Regions from separate parts of the Homo sapiens genome. Here region 2 is linked to region 1. Evidence: fine-mapped expression QTL. A gene starts in region 1. The other region holds a variant in brackets. All regions are shown on one strand. Distances are between the middles of the regions. Region 1 holds the start of BCAS4 (breast carcinoma amplified sequence 4). Region 2 overlaps BCAS4 (breast carcinoma amplified sequence 4).

Region 1 (5,326 bases):
GCCGAGATTGTGCCACTGCACTCCAGCCTGGGCAACAAAGCAAGACTCTGTCAAAAAACAAAAAAAAGAAAGAAAGAAAGAAAAGAAAAAGAAATCCCTCCCTCCCATACCCCTCTCCAGTTTCTTCTCCCCCGCCCTAAAGTAACCACTTTTGGAACATGGGGTACGTCGTTCCCATGCACAGCTTTGTACTTTTGCTCCATCTGTCGGTGTCCATAAACAATATACAGTGTGGTTCTGCGTGTTTTAAAAACTGTGCTAATGGCACAGTGCCCTACAGAGCCTTCTGCAACACGACTTTTCTTCCTTAGCTTTATGTTTCTGAGATTTATCCACCAGGAGAAGTTTGCTGTGCTCAGGTCAATTTGGTGATCTGAGGCCAGTCCTGGGCTCTTTGTGGGAGATGCCTAGCCAGCAGGCAAGGGCAAGGGTCTGAGACCGGCTCCCAGGGGATGGCGAGGAGGGCTCAGAGCATCAGGGAAATCATGACAATGACGAATGGCCGAGTGTGGGCTCAGTGAGTTCCTATAAAACCCTTAAGCACTTGAGGCCCAAGTCTTTGCCAAGAATTTTCCAGAAAATGACTGGCCTGAAGGCCTGGATATTTGGATAGGGAGAAATTAGCAGTGGACAGATTTGGAAGTGGGAATTGTGCAGTGATGGACTACACAAAAGGCAGGTCAAACATGTGTTGTTTAGGCCCCTACCTAGGGTGGCCAACTACAATATAAATTCAGATTTAATGGAGAGGAAGGTGTGGGACGTCCTATATATTTATTTGCACCCTTGATACCAGCCCCTCCTTTTTAAAAAACAACAACAACAACAAAAGACAGAGTTTCACTGTGTCACACAGGCTGGAGTGCAGTGGTGCGATCATAACTCGCGGTAGCCTTGAACTCCTGGCCTCAAACAATCCTCCTGCATCTGCCTCTCCAGTAGCTAGGACTACAGTTGTGCCCCACCACATCCTGCAATTTTAATTTTTTTTTTTCTTTTAGAGAGATGGAGTCTCCTTATGTTTGCCCAAGCAGCTCAGCCTTTTTTTTTTTTTTTTTTTGTGAGGCGATTTAACATTTAAAGAAAAGTCAGCAGGCAGGGGGCGCTGGCCCACGCCTGTAATCCTAGCACTTTGGGAGGCCGAGGCAGGTGGCTCACCTGAGGTCAGGAGTTCGAGAGCAGCCTGGCCAACATGGCGAAACCCCGTCTCTACTAAAAAATACAAAAATTAGAATTAGTCGGGCGTGGTGACAGGCGCCTGTAATCCCAGCTACTCGGGAGGCTGAGGGAGGGGGAGAATTGCTTGAACCCGGAATGTGGAAGTTACAGTGAGCCGAAATCGCACCACTGCACTCCAGCCTGGGCGACAGAGCGAGACTCCGTCTCCAAAAAAAAAAAATTAATTAATTAAAAATAAAAATAAGTCATCAAACGAAAAATCAAAACTTCAGACTTGTCTTATACCTATTTGCCTTTTAGTACTTTCCTCATTAGCACTGTTGGGGTGGGAGATGAGGCGCACCTCGCTCTCTTCAGCCCCAAGGCTTGTAAAGGGTCTATCTAGGCCGGCCTCCGAGGGCATGGAGGGAGTGGGTGCGGTTGTGAAATGTAGTGCGCTCAATAGTTTCCTGGTGAAGTTTATTTTAAAATCCGCACCGAAGAGGAAGACGAGGACCGTCACACTCGGCCTTCCCTAAATTCCAGGACCCTCCGCCCGATGCAAACTAGATGCTTTAGTAGGATGGGAACGGGTGGGGGGCGGGCGGCTTTGGGCTTCCTCTAAGCTAGCGCCTCTCTAACCCGGACGCCCGTTAGAATCACCCGGGGAGTTTTAGAAACTACCGATGCCCAAGCCCCACTCCGAAGGATTCCAACTTAATCGGCCTGGTGCGAGGCCTGGCTTCCGGGCTTTTAAAAGCTTCCCGGGGATTCTATTTTACGGCCGGGTCCGGGGCCGGGAGCCTGTACTCTACCGGGATTCCGATGGGGAGGGGTGGCTTGCCCCAATAGTTCTCAAATTTAGCTTTGGGTCAACAATCTGGTTGGAACCACCTAACAAACATCAAAAGATCCTGATGCCCAGGTCTTAACCCAGAGACGGTGTGGTCCAGGCTTGGGAAATTCTAAAAGAGCTCCAGGTGACTGCCATCTGCAAGCGAGTTTGCAAAGCACTGATGCCCAGGTGCTGCGGGGGCGGGCGCAGCGCGCGCCGCTCGCCACTGGGTGGCGCTGCCCGCTCGGCCCGGCGCTCCTGGAGCTGCGAGCCGCGACCGCCGGGAGCGCACCTGCCCCGCCTCCGCCAGGCGGTCCGCGGGGCATGCAGCGGACCGGGGGCGGGGCTCCGAGGCCCGGGCGCAACCACGGGCTCCCAGGCAGCCTCCGCCAGCCGGACCCCGTCGCCCTCCTGATGCTGCTCGTGGACGCTGATCAGCCGGAGCCCATGCGCAGCGGGGCGCGCGAGCTCGCGCTCTTCCTGACCCCCGAGCCTGGGGCCGAGGTAGGGGACGGGGCTGTGGAGTTGGAGGAGAGGGTTCTCGCGGTTAGGGGTCCGGGCTCCGGACCCTCGGCTTCCCCGGAGCATCCTCTCGCTCCCGGAGTGGGGGGCCCGGGGATTCCCCCCTTCCTGAAGGGTGGCTGCGGGGCGCCACGCAGAGATGTGCAGCGGGTCGTCCCTGCTCGCTCCTCCGGGCGACACCGGGCCCCGGAGGCCCAGGCTCGCTTTCCCTCCCCACCCGGGTCCCCCAGCATCCGCCGGGTCCTCAGGCGCCGCCCTTTGCCAGGCCGGCCCTGGGAGAGGCGGACCCCGGGACCTCTGCTGCCCCGGCTACCTCCGAGCGGTGCCCGGGCCGAGCGGCGCCTCAGGCTGCGGCTGTGCGGGCCGCGCTGCGCTGCTGCAGCTCGGAGCGAAAACACCACGCCTCTGTCTGCGCTTTCTATTTTAAAAGCACCAAGTGAAAAGCAGATCTAAAACGAGACCCTCTACCTTCCGGCTGGAGGCATCTGTCGACGCTGTTGTGAAAAAGTTATTTGTCTGAGTTCACTAGGAGTTATTTACGGTCAGAAATTCAACCCATTCTCTTTTTAAACCACAAAAGCAGTACAGGAGTATTTAACATAAAGGCTATGCACCCCTTTCTCTTTTCTCTCCCACCCCAATTCTAGTTTTCTTAGAAAACCAGCATTAACTGTTTGGTATAAATCATTCCGGACATTTAAAATGCATTTACAAATGTAGATATCTGTATCTGCCTAGGCAGAGTATTGGCTCATGCCAGTGGTCCCAGCATTCTGGGAGGCTGAGGCAGGAGGATTGCTTGGGATGGGGATAGGGGACGGGGAAGAGTGAGGCTGCAGTGAGGCTTGATCATGCCACTGCACTCCAGCCTGGGCGACAGAGTGAGACATTTAAAAAAAAATCTATCTCGCCAGGCCTGGTGGCTCACGCTTGTAATCCCAGCACTACTGGGAGGCCGAGACGGGTGGATCACCTGAGGTCAGGAGCTCGAGACCAGCCTGACCAACATGGTGAAACCCCGTCTCTACTAAAAATACAAAAATTAGCCGGGTGTGTAATCCCAGCTACTTGGGAGGCTGAGGCAGGAGGATCGCTTGAACCTGGGAGGCGGAGGCTGCAGTGAGCTGAGATCAGCCATTGCATTCCAGCCTGGGCAACAAGAGCAAAACTCCCTCTCAAAAAAAAAAACCATAAAATATCTTTCCATATATATATATATACATATATATGAGTTTTCTCTTTTTTCTTTTTCTTTTTCTCCATATATATATATATATATATATATATATATATATATTTTTTTTTTTTTTTTTTTTTTTTTTGAGATGGAGTCTTGCTCTGTCACCAGGCTGGAGTGCATTGGCATGATCTCAGCTCACTGCAACCTCCGCCTCCCAGGTTCAAGGAATTCTCCTGCCTCAGCCTCCCGAGTAGCTGGGACTACAGGCGTGTGCCACCATGCTCAGCTAATTTTTGTATTTTTCAGTAGAGACGGGGTTTCACCATGTTGGCCAGGATGATCTCTATCTCTTGACCTCGTGATCCACCCTCCTCGGCCTCCCAAAGTGTTGGGATTACAGGCGTAAGCCACAGCGCCCAGCCATCTCCACATATTTTTAAAATAATTTTTGAACAGACGTTTTTAATTTTTTTTTTTTTGACAGGGTTTCACTTTGTCACCCAGGCTGGAGTGCAGTGACACAATCATAGCTCAATGTAGCCTCAACCTCCTGGGCTCAAGTGATCCTCCCACCTCAGCCTCCCGCATAGCCAGGACCACAGGTGCGCACCACCATGTCAGGTTAACTTTTAAAACAAAGTTATTTTGTGGAGACGAGATCTCACTATGTTGCCCAGGCGGGTCTTGAATTCCTGGGCCCAAGAGATCCTTTGGCCTCAGCCTCCCAAAGTGCTGGGATTATAGGCATGTACCACCATGCCTGGCCCATCTATATTAGTTTTAAATGAAACCTCACTTGCTGCTGTAATACTGTCCTGCAACTTGCTTTTCTTTACTCAAAATAGCATGGAAAAATGTGTGGGGACTACTAATGGGAAGGTATGGGGCTTCGTTTTGGTGTAATGAACATGTTCTGGATGTTAGATAGTTGTGTTGGTTGCACAAATTTGTGAATATACTGAAAACTGCTGAATCGTACACTTTGAAAGGGTGAATTTTGTGGTTTGTGAATTATATCTCAATTTAAAAAAATAGCATGGAGGCAGGGTACAGTGGCTTATGCCTGTAATTCCAGCGACTTAGGAAGCTGAGGTGGGAGGATCACTTGAGACCAGGAGTTCAAGACCAGTCTGGGCAACGCAGGGAAACCCCTGTCTCTACAAAAAAATGTTAAAATATAAAAAATTAAAAATAACACGAACAAAAATTTAAAAATTAAAAATAACATGAGCATGTATCCATAAACACTGTCCAATAGAAATATAATTGGAGCTACAAATGTGAGCTACCTATGCAATTTTTTTTGTTTTTGAGACAGAGTTTCACTCTTGTTGCCCAGGCTGGAGTGCAATGGTGTGATCTCGGCTCACCGCAACCTCCACCTCCTGGGTTCAAACGATTCTCCTGCCTCAGCCTCCCGAGTAGCTGGGATTACAGGCATGCGCCACCACGCCCAGCGAATTTTGTATTTTTAGTAGAGACAGGGTTCCTCCATGTTGGTCAGGCTGGTCTCGAACTCCTAGCCTCAGGTGATCTGCCCGCCTCGGCCTCCCAAAGTGCTGGGATTACAGGTGTGAGCCACTGTGCGTGGCCACCTACGCAATTTTTAGTGTTCTAGGAGCCACATGAAA
Region 2 (5,356 bases), 83 kb after region 1:
GCGCGCTACCATGCCCGGCTAATTTCTGTATTTTTAGTAGAGACAGGCTTTGACTGTGTTGGCCAGGCTGGCCTCAAACTCTTGACCTCAAGTGATCCGCCTGCCTTGGCCTCCCAAAGTGCTGGGATTACAGTCATGAGCCACTGCGCCTGGGCTGCCTGGCTCTTCTTGATGCCTACAGAGTATTCCATTGTGGAGAGGGCCTGACATGGATGCCTTGGTCCCTTTGGGTGGCCGGCTTTGGCTGTCACAGGCAGTGCTGTCAGAGGAGCTCAGAGTCTTTGGTCATATGTGTGAGTCCTGCAGGATGAACTTGTAGACCGGGAATTCCTGGGTCATGGAACAAGTGGATCCAAATCGCTGATAGAGCTTCATTTCTTGTCATTCCAGAAGTCACCTGCACCGGTGCCCGTGACGTACGAGCTGCCCACACTGTATAGGACGGAGGACTATTTTCCTGTGGACGCCGGGGAAGCACAGCACCACCCCCGCACCTGCCCTCGGCCTTTGTGAGCTTTGTGGTCTTCCCATCAGGAACGCTGGAAAGTGACATTGTGTACACACTGCAGCTTGGGGGTTTTTTCTTTGTATTGCTGTTTATTTTATATTTTAAAAATATTTAAAAAAATGTCGAGATGGGGTCTCACTATGTTGTCCAGACTGATCTCAAACTCCTGGGCTCAAGTGATCCACCCACCTTGGCCTTCCAAAGTGGTGGGATTATGGGCAGGAGCCTCCGTGCCCAGGCTGCTGCCATTTTCAAATTTCCTCCCTGCCTCATGTGAGACCACAGGGTTTGGAGAAGCAGTTGGAACCCACGTGTGGTGATGCCTCCCACATCGGCCTGCTTGGGGTTCTACAGGGGTTGAGGGACCAGGCCTGGCCGGGGCTGATGGACAGTGGGGACTTTCCTTCTCTCCATGATGGCTTTGCAGGGGCTCCATGGTCCTTCTCTCTGTGATGGGTTTTTGCACGGGGTGTGCTCTGCCACTGTGGTGGGTGGGTGGATGCTGCTTCTGTTGCCTCCAGACCTCGGTGCCCACAGCCTTGAGGATCCTTCCAATAAAGGTGTCAAGAGCTCAGCCCTGGTCTGGTGTGAGAATGACGGGGAGTGATAGTTTCCTTTTCACCTGTGCAGTGTTTTCTAGAAGGTTCCTCCTGTGCCTCACCTGCGAGGGCCTGATCCTGGGCACCTGCTGATGAGGCTCCAGCTGAGGGAGGGGTAGTCCCGGCCTTTGGATTTCCAGCAAGAGTGCAGAGGTCATTAGGACCCCCAGGGTCTTCAAAGGCTTGTTTACCCACATTTCTTCCCATGCAGATGAGTTTCCTGCTATTGTCCTAACACTCCGGATTTCTCACTGTGGCTTCAACCTGCAATGGGTATTTCTGGAATTCCTCGAAGAGCCAAGAACACACACATAATTCCCCTATGCACATACAGGACTGAACTGTAAATCTGCATTAGAATTTCAAGATAATCTGCCTGGGCAAGGTGACTCATGCCTGTAATCCCAGCATCTTGGGAGGCTGAGGCAGGAGGGTCGCTTATGCACAGGGTCAAGACTGCAGTGAGCCGTGATTGTTCTACTGCACCCTAGCATGTGCAACAGAGCAAGACCCTGTCCCCCACACCCCAAAAAAGTTTTTCAAGGAAGCCTAAAATAATGAATCTGGCAAGATAGAGTAGAGGCCAGGTGCAGCGGCTCATGTCTGTGATCCCAGCACTTTGGGAGGCCGAGGCAGGCAGATCGCCCAGGAGTTTGAGACCAGCCTGGGCAACATAATGAGACCATATCTCTACCAAAAATACAAAAATTAGCCTGGCGTGCTGGTGCACATCTGTGGTCCCAGCTACTTGGGAGGCTGAGGTGGGAGGATTGCTTGAGCCTGGGAGGTTGAGGCTGCAGTGAGCCATGATTGTGCCACTGCACTCTAGCCTGGGTAACCAAGTGAGATCTTGGCTAAAAATGTTTTTAAAAATTAAAAACAGAAAAGCAGGGAAATAGTTTAGACAATTTTTGGAATTCAGAGATATAGGTAGACCCCTTGTTTCTGGAAAAGTCAGCATTTTTATTCTCTTTTCTTTTTTTTCGAGATGGAGTCTCACTCTGTCACCCAGGCTGTAGTGCGGTGGCATGATCTCAGCTCACTGCAACCTCCGCCTCCCGAGTTCAAGCTATTTTCCTGCCTCAGCCTCCCAGGAAGCTGGGATTACGGGAGCACACCACCACGCCCAGCTAATTTTTGTATTTTTAGTAGAGACGGGGTTTCGCCATGTTGGTCAGGCTGGTCTCGAACTCCTGACCTCAGGTGATCCTCCTACTTTGGCCTCCCAAGGTGCTGGGATTACAGGTGTGAGCCACCATGCCCGGTCAGCATTTTTTTATTGAGGTGACTTTTACAATTTTTTTTTTCTTTAAATGAGACACCTGTCACCCAGCCTGGAGTGCAGTGGTGTGATCATGGCTCCCTGAAACCTCAAGCTCCTGGGCTCAAGTGATCCTCCTGCCTCAGCCTCCCAAGTAGCTGGGACCACAAATGTGCACCACCATGCCTGGCAACTTTTCAAATTTGTTTTATTTTTTGTAGAGACAGGGTCTCCCTATGTTGTTCAGGCTGGTCTTGAACTTCTGGGCTCAGGGGACCCTCCTGTTTCGGCCTCCCAAAATGTAGTGTTGGCACAAACCTTTATTGAAGTATAATTTATATTACAGAAAGGGGTGCCTAAGTGGTTCACTAAATTTTTCACAAACTGA[G/A]TGTATCTATTTAAGCCTCACCAGACTGAGCAACCAACATTATCAGCACTGAGCAGCCCCCTCATGCCCGCTTCTGGTCCATGCCCATACCCACCCCCACCCCAGGCTGACAGCATACTGACATCTAACCATATGGACTGGAGTTTCTTGTTTCTGTGCTCTGTATAAAGAGAGGACACACGGGATGTGTACCTACGGTGTGTCATCTCTTGTCTCTGGCCTCACCGGCTTGATGTTACCTTGGGAGGTGTCACTGTTGCTGTGTCACTGTAGATCATTCCCATGGCTGTGTTGTATTGGCTGGGACTGTTTTTATCGAAGGGAGCTTGGACACTCTGCATGCCCCAGTGTGCTCAGGGAGAGCACACGTTGGATGGAAAGTTGGCCGGGTGAGGTGGCTCACGCCTGTAATCCCAGCACTTTGGGAGGCCAAGGTGGGCAGATCACTTGAGGTCAGGAATTCGAGACCAGCCTGGCCAACATAGTGAAACCTCATCTCTACTAAAAATACAAAAATTAGCCAGGTGCTGTGGTGCACCCCTGTAATCCCACCTACTCGGGAGGCTGAGGCAGGAGAATCGCTCGAATCTGGGAGGTGGAGGTTGCAGCAAGCCAAGATCGTGCCACTGCACTCCAGCCTGGGCAACAGAGCGAGACCCTATCTCAAAAAAGAAGAAAAAGGAGAAAGCTAATGTTAATTTTTTAGACAAGCAGTTGAGGACACTCATTTCCGGAAGGGTGAGTATCTGCTGAGTGTTGGGCACTCCCAGGCTTCTTTCTCCTCCCAGCCCCTGAAACAGGGGCCAGGGAGAGTTGGAAGGAAATCCCATGTGATTAAGCCGCAGCAACGTTGAGTGTCCTAAAGCAGGGACCCACAGGCCCCACGCTAGGAGCATGGCCCTGAGGTTAGCCTGCCTGGCAGCACTGTCCGCTCCCATGCCTCTTAGCTGTGTGAGCTGGGCTTTTCACTTGCTCTCTCTGAGTCCAGCTGCCCCTGCGGTAAGACATGAGGATGGCTCTGGTCTGATGGGTTGTGGTGAGGGTGACATGAGGTGAGCTGTGTGCATGCTGGGCACACTGGCGAGGGGCTCTCAGTAATGGGAGGCTGCTGTTGCAGGGCCCGGGCTGTGATGGGGAAAGGGTTGATTGTCCTGCGTTTCTCAGTTGACCAGCGGCATCCGAGGGCCTGAACAGCGAGTGACTCAGGGACTGCCCTTACGTGTCAGAGTTAGAAGTCATGGGAGAATGGAGGCTGCTCTCTCTGGGTTTCCCTGTCCTGTTAGGAGGGGTGAGGTTGCACAGGAAATCTATGGGGAAAAGGTGACAAGTGAACTGGAAGTAGCCGTTCCAAAGTTCCTAGGATTTGCACTGCCAAACAATGAGCTTTAAGGGACGCTTGGAAACATCTGGGGAGAAGGAAGGCCGGGACACTGCGCCCTGCCATCACCAACCCCTAACCTCAGTCCTCTGAGCGGCTCCACTGTCCCTGTGCCAGGTGACTTCATGTGCGTCCTCATTAAAGCAAAGTGCCTGACATTTCCATTGTCCAGTCAATGATGTCCTCGGTTGCTGACTATTGATGGCCTCTAACCCCTTGGTAAGGGTAACTGCAGCCTAGGAAAGGGTGATCTGATCTTTCTCTTTTTTAAACAGAGACGGGGTTTTGCTATGTTGTCCAGGCTAGTCTCAACCTCCTGGGCTCAAGCGATCCTCCTACCTTGGCCACCCAAAGTATTGGGATTACAGTCGTGAGCCACCGAGGCCTGCCAGTCTTTTTCTTTTGTGGCTGATGTTGGACAGGGACACCAGTAGAAAGGTCACTGCAGATTTCTTCCCAAGAGCAAGGCTCTTCGGTCAACCCCCTTTCCCACTTTCCCAGCGGATGTGAACTTCGTGCTCACCAAAGCAAGAGGTTTCAAGGTAGCAGCCCATGGGGTTGTATCTGATTGGCAGAAATGTGTGGTTTGCCCTGAATTGTTTTAAGATGTTTTCATGTTGTGACAATTGGGTAAACTTCTGGAAAAAATAGAGCTCCATACCTCACTCAGCACACCTGGATTGTAAATCGATTAGGAGCTTAATGTATAAAATGAATCTATTGGCCGGGTGCAGTGGCTCACACCTGAATCCTACCACTTTGGGAGGCCAAGGTGGGTGGATCGCTTGAGCTCAGGAGTTCAAGACCAGCATGGGCAACATAGCAAAACCCCTTCTCTGTAAAAAATAGAAAAATTAGCCAGGCATGGTGGTGCTTGCCTATAGACCCAGCTACTTGGTGGGAGGTGGGAAGATTGCTCGAGCCAGGGAACTTGAGGCTGCAGTGAGCTGAGATTGTGCCACTGCACTCCAGCCTGGGTGACAAAGTGTTACCCTGTCTTAGAAAGTAAAATAAAACGAATCTATTGAAGAAATAGGTTAAAAACATTGGCGAAGTGTACAAAATCGAGAAGCCATAAAAGAGGTCAATTTGATTATATAAAATTTTTAAACTTCTGCATGGCAAAACCAACGGAAAACTCAACCAAAAAATCCCAAAACAACAAAATCCTAAGCAAATTCAAAAGATAGATGACAAATTGGGAAAATATATTTGCATCTCA

What was found.
Region 2: its variant is fine-mapped to the expression of BCAS4 in whole blood (INTERVAL, PIP 0.92).

The regions. Positions count from the first base shown.
Region 1 is chr20:50,792,677-50,798,002 of GRCh38, forward strand. It overlaps BCAS4 (breast carcinoma amplified sequence 4), which reads left to right and starts at 2,385. Exons shown (of 5, transcript NM_198799.4): 1 at 2,385-2,497. The coding sequence starts at 2,408. RefSeq lists a silencer at 2,118-2,937.
Region 2 is chr20:50,876,096-50,881,451 of GRCh38, forward strand. BCAS4 (breast carcinoma amplified sequence 4) reads left to right here. Exons shown (of 5, transcript NM_198799.4): 5 at 391-1,082. The coding sequence ends at 513. Among named protein-coding and RNA genes, the nearest start is that of ADNP-AS1, 52 kb to the right of the region's middle. RefSeq lists enhancers at 46-626, 3,285-3,786, 3,787-4,286. The variant G/A (reference allele first, on the strand shown) is at 2,757.